3 linked regions of the Homo sapiens genome follow. The protein of the gene in region 1 purifies or fractionates together with the protein of each later gene. This does not show direct contact. Each region holds a gene or a part of one and is shown in the gene's direction. Other genes may lie near its edges. The genes, in order: GTF2E1, SH3GLB2 and HARS1.

What was found.
Region 2: the proteins of GTF2E1 (region 1) and SH3GLB2 fractionate together in Homo sapiens (co-fractionation; one large-scale study listed by BioGRID). This does not show direct contact.
Region 3: the proteins of GTF2E1 (region 1) and HARS1 fractionate together in Homo sapiens (co-fractionation; one large-scale study listed by BioGRID). This does not show direct contact.

The regions. Positions count from the first base shown.
Region 1 is NC_000003.12:120,770,097-120,773,751, forward strand, and holds part of GTF2E1 (general transcription factor IIE subunit 1), read left to right. Parts: intron 1-631; coding exon 632-833; intron 834-3,655.
Region 2 is NC_000009.12:129,008,811-129,011,363, reverse strand, and holds part of SH3GLB2 (endophilin-B2), read left to right. Parts: intron 1-598; coding exon of another isoform or gene 599-670; coding exon 671-694; intron 695-1,154; coding exon 1,155-1,244; intron 1,245-1,492; coding exon 1,493-1,593; intron 1,594-1,896; coding exon of another isoform or gene 1,897-1,911; intron 1,912-2,017; coding exon 2,018-2,258; intron 2,259-2,553.
Region 3 is NC_000005.10:140,677,801-140,681,455, reverse strand, and holds part of HARS1 (histidine--tRNA ligase, cytoplasmic), read left to right. Parts: intron 1-1,572; coding exon 1,573-1,668; intron 1,669-2,328; coding exon 2,329-2,454; intron 2,455-3,440; coding exon 3,441-3,548; intron 3,549-3,655. UniProt on the Homo sapiens protein: Catalyzes the ATP-dependent ligation of histidine to the 3'-end of its cognate tRNA, via the formation of an aminoacyl-adenylate intermediate (His-AMP). Plays a role in axon guidance.

The DNA.
Region 1 (3,655 bases):
TAATCTTTCAAGTAAGTTGAGTCAGAAAGGAAGGATGCATATTCCTGTCTTTGGGAATAAGAACCAAACTGGAAATCCAGGTGTGGCTAGTGGTGTAGACTGTTAAGTAATGTTTAAGAGTGTGAGTTTTAGCATAATAGATTGAATTGATTAGATACAAATGGTTAATAAATTTTAAAAAATAGCCTGTGACAATGTTCAGGATGACTAGAAACTCTTGGTTTTAGGTATTTATTTGGCTTTCCCCATAACGTAGGCCCAAATGTGTAATGTGAAAACAAAAAAGACTAAAGCTGCCAGGAAAGGGTACAAGTTGTGGTGGTAAGCTGTAAAGAATTTGGCTTTAAGTTAAAATAAATACATATTAGAAATATTGTGATTAAAAACTATGCTGAAGTTAGGGATGAAATTACTTTGAATACATCAAAAATGATAGATGGATAGATATGTGATGAATAGCAAAATGCTAATTGTAGAATCTAAATGGTGGTCACATGGCTGTTCACTGTGAAATTCTTTCAACCTTTGTGTATATTTGAAAGTTTTAATAATAAGATATTGGGGGAGGGTGGAGGTATAAACTATCTGCTAAAGTCTTCTCTCTGACCTGAGATACTTGTTTTCTCTGTAGGAACTTTCCGCTGTACTTTTTGCCATACAGAGGTAGAAGAGGATGAATCAGCAATGCCCAAAAAAGATGCACGCACACTTTTGGCAAGGTTTAATGAACAAATTGAGCCCATTTATGCATTGCTTCGGGAGACAGAGGATGTGAACTTGGCCTATGAAATACTTGAGCCAGAACCCACAGAAATCCCAGCCCTGAAACAGAGGTGAGTGTAGGCCCTGTGCTCTTACTAAGAACACATTTCAACCTGTTCTTGTTTTAACTACCTGTACCTTGGAGAACAAGAGTGGGTAATTTACTAGGAGACTCAAGACTGTAATGTTACGTAGGTTCTCAGTTGTGCCACATTTGTCTGATTAACGTGTGCCTGTGATGAAATTCGTTTGTTCTAAATGCAGAACACTGTGGACTTCAGGCAAAAATCTTTAAATATTTAGGTTTGACTTCAAGTACTCATTCTGCTTGGGACTGCAGCAACTCAGCCAATTGTTAGCTAATCCTAAATTAGTTGTGCCGCTTGGGGATATTTGAATTTTCCTAGCCAGCTTCTGAAGGCTGAAGGCCTTTAAGGAATTCAGCATTTTCTTTTTTGTTTTTGAAGCATTTTAATCACCTTTATTTCTTAGTTGTAATTGCAACTTCCTTGAAAGTAAAGTATAGCTGGTGTTACCTATGGGTTAATACTCCTAACAGTGGCTCCCTATTTTTATCAGTGTTCCCTAATGTTTGAATTTCAGAGGTAACCTTAGTTTTGCCATGCCAGAAAAGGTGGTTTATATTCTTTCTTGAAAAGCATAAATGAAAATTGGGGTCAGGGAGTGCTCTCCTACTCTACCCTTTTTTTTCTCTCCCTCTTCCCAGCATCAAGTAAGGGATATCTTTATTTAACCTTCACTTCACCCACTCCCTTCCAAAGAGCTCAACAATCAGGCTGTATTTGTATAGTTTTTAGGAGCATTCTTAGTATTTTATTTCCTGTGGTACTGATGTTACAGAATAGCCAGTCCTGAGTAAATTGGGCTCCTTTTAGATGGTTCAAAGCAATCCAATTCTACAGAAAATTTTGTATCTGTAAGAGTTATGAATTTTCTAATCCAGTACCGTGTGTCAGTTAGGATGCCTTTGCCTGTGATAACAGAATATCCAGCTCTAGTTGGAATTAGAATCCAGTCTAGCAGTAGATTGAACAATAAGAAAATTTGTCTTGCATGACTAGAAGTCTTGAAGTAGTACAGTTCAAAACTGGTTAATTTCACAGCTCAATTATATCTTCAGGGATCTAGATTTGTTCCATCTTTATACTCTGCTGAACTCAGCCTGTTGATTATCCTCTTGGGACCATGAGGGGAGCTAGTCTAATATGGCCATGTATTTCTAGGTATCACGTGCAGATGACAATGTCCAAATGCAGAAAAAGGGACCGTCCCTTCCTTGTGTCCTATTTTAAAACTGAAGAAAGGTTTCCCAGAGGGCTCCCTAGGATACTCTATTTATCCCCTGATGTCTCACTGGCTGCAATTGTTTTATATGCATATTTCTAAACCAGCAGCTGGCAAAGGAAATGAGATCACATGACTGGTACTTAGACTAGTTAAGGTTTACCTTCTAGGACTGGGGAAGGTCCCAGAGTTCTTTGGAGCAAATTGCCATTGGTATTTTAATAAAACCAATAAGCAAAGAAAGAAAGGAGCCACAGTTGATAGGAAACTAATAACATCTGTATCACAGATAGCCTTAACTTTTGGTACTGGTTATTTATTTCTTTTTGTGTAAGAAAAGGAATTCCTCTTTTGAAAAAGGAATTTTTCTTTTTGTATCTTTTTCAGTCCTTTTAAGTTATATTGTAGCTCTAACATACAAGCTTATGAGGGAAATTGATTTTACAAAAATACAAAATTTTCTAAGCTTATGGATTATTTCATGTTGAAGTATGCGTCAGTGTAGTATCTGATTGCTTCCTACACAATATACTATCTGAATTATTCTGATGTTTCCTCTCCTACCTGTAGTTATTTGTCCTGTTTATCAAGATGCTTCCCCACTACAATAGCATTCAGTCACCACCACCACTGGCTTCCTGTCTCTAATGTTCTCCACCTACCACAATCCAGCTCCCCTTCCAGGATCTTTATTTCCATATCCCCCACTCACTGCAGGCCTTGGATGAGTCTTAGTGGTACAGTGACACCAGAGGCCCAACAGCAGCTCTCTGTATCAAGTCATCTTCTTCTTATCAGGAATGATGGTGACTCCAGGGATGAAGAAGAACCAGGAAATAGAGGAAATAAACTGATCAGGAAAAAAGGATACCCAAAAATCTGGTCATTAAGAAAAAAGGGAGGAAATGGAGGCAGACAAGAAAGACAGAATGGGGTTCCTAGAGCTGCCAGCCAGACCAAAGTAAAATCATTTCCACGTGGTCAGGAAAAAAACCATTAGGTTAGAAGATGTTACCCAGGTTATAATGTCCCCACCAAAGCATTTGACAAATTCCACTGCTTGGATATAACATCCTGGAGGTGGTATTGATTTGGCCTTTCTGTACTATAGGAGTATGAAGTTTTGAAATGGCCCATCCTGCCCCAAGGATGTAATAGTCCATCCTGCCTCAGTACAAGAGAAGAGGCATCAATAGAATGGTATGGGAACTCAGAGATGATAGCTTTTCTTTTTTTAAATAAGTGGCAATATTATTAGTTTGATTACTGATCTGTAATCAGTTAAATTCTAGCTTGTCCCTAGATCAGAAACTAGGGGCTACCTCTGCAGAACTGTCAGTAGGCCTAACCCAAGAATTGATGGACAATTCTATCCTTTCAGCAAGTCAACCTATTGATGAGATATAAAAATCTTCCTATCTTTCTAGAGTGGAATTCCTTGCTAGTAACCTTCCCTTTTTCATCATCTCTTAACACTTACCTTAAAGATTTTTAAAAATTTAGTTTTGAAATAATATTCCCCTCTCATCTCTGAGTAAGAGTTGTATCTTTTAAAAGTTCTAAAATTTATTAAATAATATAAAAAGAT
Region 2 (2,553 bases), on another chromosome or scaffold:
AGCAGCATGGGGGCCACACGGGCCGGCCACGCACACTGGCCTGGGTCCGCATTCCCTATTTCAGGCTGTTGTCTCGGGTCAGATCTCCGGAAGCGGCAGGAGCGCTGGGTCTCCTGGTCGTGGCCGGGCAGCGTCTTTCTTCTTCAGGGTCTGGATGCCACTTCCCGCCTCCTCCCTGTGCCCAGTGGAAGGAGAAACATCCTAGAGGGTGGAGACTGCCCTGTTTTTCTTTTGCCATTGAGTCCCAGTGTGACTCAAGCACGAGGCCACCTTTCTCTGCCAGAGGACAGAAAGCTTCAGTGACTGGCCCAGGGTCACACAGTTCTGCCGCCCAGCCCAGCAGCCTGAGCCAGCAGTCAGGATGGGGTGGGGACACTCCGTCTCTCTTGAGACCCCACTCAGAGAATGGGGCTGACACTGTAGGAGAAATATAAGCAGGACTCCTGCTGGCTGCTCCCCTCCTGCATGAGGCATGTTAGAGGGACTGGGACCGCCAGCCCCCAGCTCCCATGCCGGGCCTCGGCCCAGTCTCAGCTCCTGTTTGGGAGGGGGGGCAGAGGGGCAGGGGGGCAGAAGTTGAGTCTGGGAGCTGGGGCAGGGCACAGGCTCTAGGGTCCAGCTGTCCTCCTCTCCCCTCCCCTGCTGGCCACTCCTGCTGCCGTCTCCACAGCTCTGGAATGATGAAGTGGACAAGGTAAGTTGGGGCCTGGGGGGCTGGGCTCGAGGAAGAAGGGGTGGCGGGGTGCAGGCACACTTGCTGCTGTGGGGTCTGATCTGTTTCTCACTCTGCCCCACACCCACTGGGGAGGGGTTACTGCTTTCCCTCCCTGGGCCTCAGTTTCCCCTCTGTGGGGAAATGTTTTCTCCACAGTACCCTGTAGCACACAGTAGGCCCTCAGGATGCACTTGCTGGGTGGATTTCTCCGATGGGTGATGGAGGAAGGGTCTGTCACTGCAGCTGCCTGTGGGGTCCTGAGTGGGGCTCTAGCTTCTCTGGGGTTGGGGCTCCAGGTGTGAAGTCAGGCATAGACCCAGAAGGCTCTCTGTGTTCCCAGGGGAAAGGGACAGGCGGCTCCCAGGTAGGCTCCAGGAGAAGACTGCGGGGAAGCTGGTGGGTGGTGTGTGGGTGCTCATGGCTGCCCTGCCCTGCCCAGGCCGAGCAGGAGCTCCGCGTGGCCCAGACAGAGTTTGACCGGCAAGCAGAAGTGACCCGTCTCTTGCTGGAGGGAATCAGTAGCACTCACGTGAGTCCCACTGCCCACCCTCACTAAACCTAACCCTCAGCAGGCACCAGGTGTGCCTGAACCACAAGGTCAGCAGGGCTGCCCCAGAATGGCCCTCACAGAGCAAGTCCCACCGGGGAGGGTGTGGGCGCAGGGGCAGGGCACCCTGGAATGCCGGAGCAAGGTCTGGTAGAGGACGGGGATGGGGACGGAATTTTTTGTTCTGAGGGCGGGAGGTTAGAAGTCAGCCTCTGGCCTCTTCCCCGCAGGTGAACCACCTGCGCTGCCTCCACGAGTTCGTCAAGTCTCAGACAACCTACTACGCACAGTGCTACCGCCACATGCTGGACTTGCAGAAGCAGCTGGGCAGGTGCGGGGCCAGCACTGCTGAACCCACTGGGGCCCCCTGGCTCCCATACCCTGTCCGTGGGCAGCATGAGCTCCTCTGGGCAAGTCCTGTGACACAAAGCTGGGTTGGAGGGCTCTGCTGGAACCCACTCTGGGTGCGGGCATCTCATGTGTATGAGGGTGGAGTGGCTGGCCTTACTGACGGCCAAGTCCCCTGGAGCCCCTGAGGGTTTCTAGGGAATGCCTGGGTGGGGAGGATGGCAGGGACCAGGGGGTGGGGCCATCTCACCCTTCCCTTGCTTTGCTTTTCCCTTTGTGCTGCCAGCTCCCAGGGTGCCATGTGAGTAGCCGGGGCTGGAGTGGGGCTCCTGGGGCTGGGGAGGGGAGTTTGCCTCTGGGGTCCCTTCTGGGACTCCCACCTGCTAAGATGTATCCCTCCTCTCCAGATTTCCCGGCACCTTCGTGGGCACCACAGAGCCCGCCTCCCCACCCCTGAGCAGCACCTCACCCACCACTGCTGCGGCCACTATGCCTGTGGTGCCCTCTGTGGCCAGCCTGGCCCCTCCGGGGGAGGCCTCGCTCTGCCTGGAAGAGGTGGCCCCCCCTGCCAGTGGGACCCGCAAAGCTCGGGTGCTCTATGACTACGAGGCAGCCGACAGCAGTGAGCTGGCCCTGCTGGCTGATGAGGTGGGCCCGGTGCCGCAAGGTGGGGCAGGAATGGGCTGGGTGAGGAGCAGCCTGGGCACTGGGATCAGGCACATGGGGCCTGGAGGGGCCCTGTTGGCAAAGTGGGGACCAGCAGGTTAAAGAGGGCATATCCAGCTCTGAGGAAAGGATCCTTGCTCTGCTGGGTCTCTGGAGCAAGTGAGATGAGCGCCAGCCACTGAAGGTGTAGCACATGCCACGGGCCATGGGGAGGTGGCAGCTCTGTCCCCACTTAGTCCTGGGGCCAGTTCCACCCTTGGCCAGGCCATGACCGTCC
Region 3 (3,655 bases), on another chromosome or scaffold:
TGGCCTCCAGTGATTCGCCCACCCCAGCCTCCCAAAGTGCTGGAATTACAGGCATGAGCCACCGCGCCCAGCCTCCCTTTGTCTTTACATCGTCTTCCCTCTGTCCCTATCTAAATTTTCTCTTCTTACAACAACATATTGGATCAGAGCCCAACTTGGAGACCTCATGTTAGCTTAATCATCTCTTTAAAGACCCTATCACCAAATGTAGACATGTTCAGAGGTTACTGGGAGTTAGGACTTAAACAAATGAATTGGGGAGGGTGGGGCCAGGGGGACACAGTTCAGCCCGTAACACTAGTGTGTTACTGTTTCTGATACTGCATACTGGGAAGTTTCAGGCTTTTTAATCTTTGCCAACCTGGTAAGTGAAATATGCTATTACCGATGATAGACATCACAGGGCAAGGACTGCTGTAATGCCCTTAAGACATTCCCCAGTTTTTACTTTTGACATTATTCGAATCTCAGGCATCAAAAAACATTTATGTTTATTGGTCTGATAACCTATTCCTAGTAGTTTATCATCAAGAAAAATACTTTTTTTTAAAAAAAAAAAGAGCTATATACCTAAATATTAGATATTGAAATGTTATGGGGAATTTTTTTTTTTTTGAGACAGAGTTTCACTCTCGTCACCCAGGCTGGAGTGCAATGGTGCGATCTCTGCTCACTGCACCCTCTGCCTCCCGGGTTCAAGCGATTCTCCTGCCTAAGCCTCCGAATAGCTGGGATTAGATGCCTACCAGCTCCCCCAGCTAATTTTGTATTTTTAGTAGAGACAGGGTTTCACCATGTTGGCCAGGCTGGTCACGAACTCCTGACCTCAGGTGATCCATCCGCCTTGGCCTCCCAAAGTGCTGGGATTACAGGCGTGAGCCGCTATGCCTGGCCTAAAAAAATTTTTTTTTAAATTAGAATAACCTAAACACCTAACAGTATAACATGAGGGAGGAAGTAAGTACAGAGCTTCTTCTCACTGGAATTTATGCATCTTTTAAAAACACTTCAGGCCGGGCGCTGTGGCTCGCACTTGTAATCCCAGTACTTTGGGAGGCTGAAGCGGGCAGATCACGAGGTCAAGAGATCGAGACTATCCTGGCCAACATGGTGAAACCCTGTCTCTACTAAAAATACAAAACTTAGCCGGGCATGGTGGCACCCGCCTGTAGTCGCAGCCACTCTGGAGGCTGAGGCAGGAGAATCTCTTGAACCCCGGAGTCAGAGGTTGCAGTGAGCCGAGATCACGCCACTGCACTCCAGCCTGGTGACAGAGCGAGACTCCATTTCAAAAAAAAAAAACAAACTTCATGCTGAGAAGTCTGAAGAAAAAAAAGATTTTTAAGAGGAAAATGTGTAAGAAAAATACTTCAGCTCTGTTACAAAATCAAAATAGAAAAAAACACAAAATTGGTGTTTCCTTTTAATGATAACTACATCAGACACCTAAGAATTGGGATAAAGAGCAGAGGGAAATGTAGACAAGTTGGAATCAGTCATGTTTGTTTTCAAAACTTCCTTTTAAATTGTTATGTTTATTATTATGACCACATTTATTTATGTTTTCTCCAGGAAACACTGATGGGAAAGTATGGGGAAGACTCCAAGCTTATCTATGACCTGAAGGACCAGGGCGGGGAGCTCCTGTCCCTTCGCTATGACCTCACTGTATCTTTCTAAACTTGGGCTCTTGAGACTTTGGATGGATTGGCACTCACTTGGCTCAGGTTTAAGAATGGTAGAGTAGGTAGGATCAAATATGAGGCCTTTGGCGATTAGGGGAATTATTTCTCTAAACCAGGAGTGGAACTTTGGCTAAACAGAGCATACACATCCTTAGAAATCTTCTGAATCCTGAGTGAGACCTCAGCTTGATGTCAGGGCCCAGTTCCAACTCTACAGTCATCCCCTGGCTCCAGAATACCTCTCCCCTGCCCTGTCCAGTGAACAAAATTCTTCTTAATGGACTAGCAACACATTTCCCTTGTCTCCAAGCTACACAGAGAATCATCTGCTTAGAAATCCCATATGGGGGCCTTTTTCTGGTCGCCTTTTTCTGGTCTGTGGCCAACCTGCCCAGCCCCTTGCCATGCTCAAAAAAGTCCAGTCAACACTACAAAAGGGAAAGGTGCCTTAATCTTTTTTGAGCCTTCAGCTACCTCATGTGGTAGCACAGCTGATGCTTTCTGATGTTTGTAAGTGCTATTAATCTTATGGGTGGCAGTTTTACCCACATAGGGAGGGGTTAGACCCCAGCTTCTGTTGGTGATGATAATCAACTTGCAGACAGTGATAGGAGGGGCTTTCTCCTTAACTCTTTGTCATCAGGTTCCTTTTGCTCGGTATTTGGCAATGAATAAACTGACCAACATTAAACGCTACCACATAGCAAAGGTATATCGGCGGGATAACCCAGCCATGACCCGTGGCCGATACCGGGAATTCTACCAGTGTGTGAGTGTTGGGAAACCGTGGGGCAGGATGAGTTACTTGGGGCTCTCTCAAGCCAGCAGAATCTATTGAGTACTCACGGTGTCCTGAGCAAATTGGATGACCCAGATAATGCTCTTAGGGTTTCTATGGTGGTTTTTTTGTTTGTTTTTTGTTTTTTTGAGACGGAGTCTCGCTCTGTTGCCCAAGCTGGAGTGCAGTGGTGCAGTCTTGGCTCACTGCAACCTCTGCCTCCTGGGTTCAAACGATTCTTCTGCCTCAGCCACCTGAGTAGCTGGGATTACAGGCGCCTGCCACTATGCCCGGCTAATTTTTTGTATTTTTAGTAGAGACGGGGTTTTACCATGTTGGCCAGGCTGGTCTCGAACTCCTGGTCTCATGATCCGCCTGCCTCGGCCTCCCAAAGTGCTGGGATTACAGGCGTGAGCCACCGCACCCAGCCTCTTCTATGGTGTTTTCATGCAGATTTCACAAAATCCCTGTGGTGGGGGAGGAGAATAAAGTCTCTTCATTTTACATATGAGTAAACTTGATACCCAGCCCATGAAGAGATCATAGGGATAAGAAAGGCAAAGTCAGGACTAGAACTCTTGGTCCAGTGCTCTTTATTTTAAACCACAGTGATAGGATCACAGCAGAGAATAAGGAAATTAGCTTTGATACATCAAATCATCCAGACTGATGCCAGGGCTTCTGGATGAATAGGGAAAATGGCTAAGCACTAAAGCCATATAATCACCCCATCCAGTAGGAGGAGTTAAGAAGATGATGAAGTAGAAAATGAAGGAATAGCCCAGTAGATGGAAAGGAAACCAAAACTGGTGAGAAGCCCAAAGATGCCGGGGTTTACCTCTGGGCTGATGATCAGAAAATGAAAGAGAAATTCTATGCTTGAGTGCAACCAGGCCTTCCTAGAGGACAGAGCTCCCAGAGTCCCCCCTTCAGAAAGGTGAATCCCTGAAGACCGCTGGCTAACCCTCTCCCTGCAGGATTTTGACATTGCTGGGAACTTTGATCCCATGATCCCTGATGCAGAGTGCCTGAAGATCATGTGCGAGATCCTGAGTTCACTTCAGATAGGCGACTTCCTGGTCAAGGTCAGAGCTGACAAGGCTGGGAGGGCAAAGTTGGGCCTGGCCTCTCACAAGAGAAGATCCTTGTGCAGAGGGACCAGTAGCCTAAGTGACCATGACTATTGCAGGTC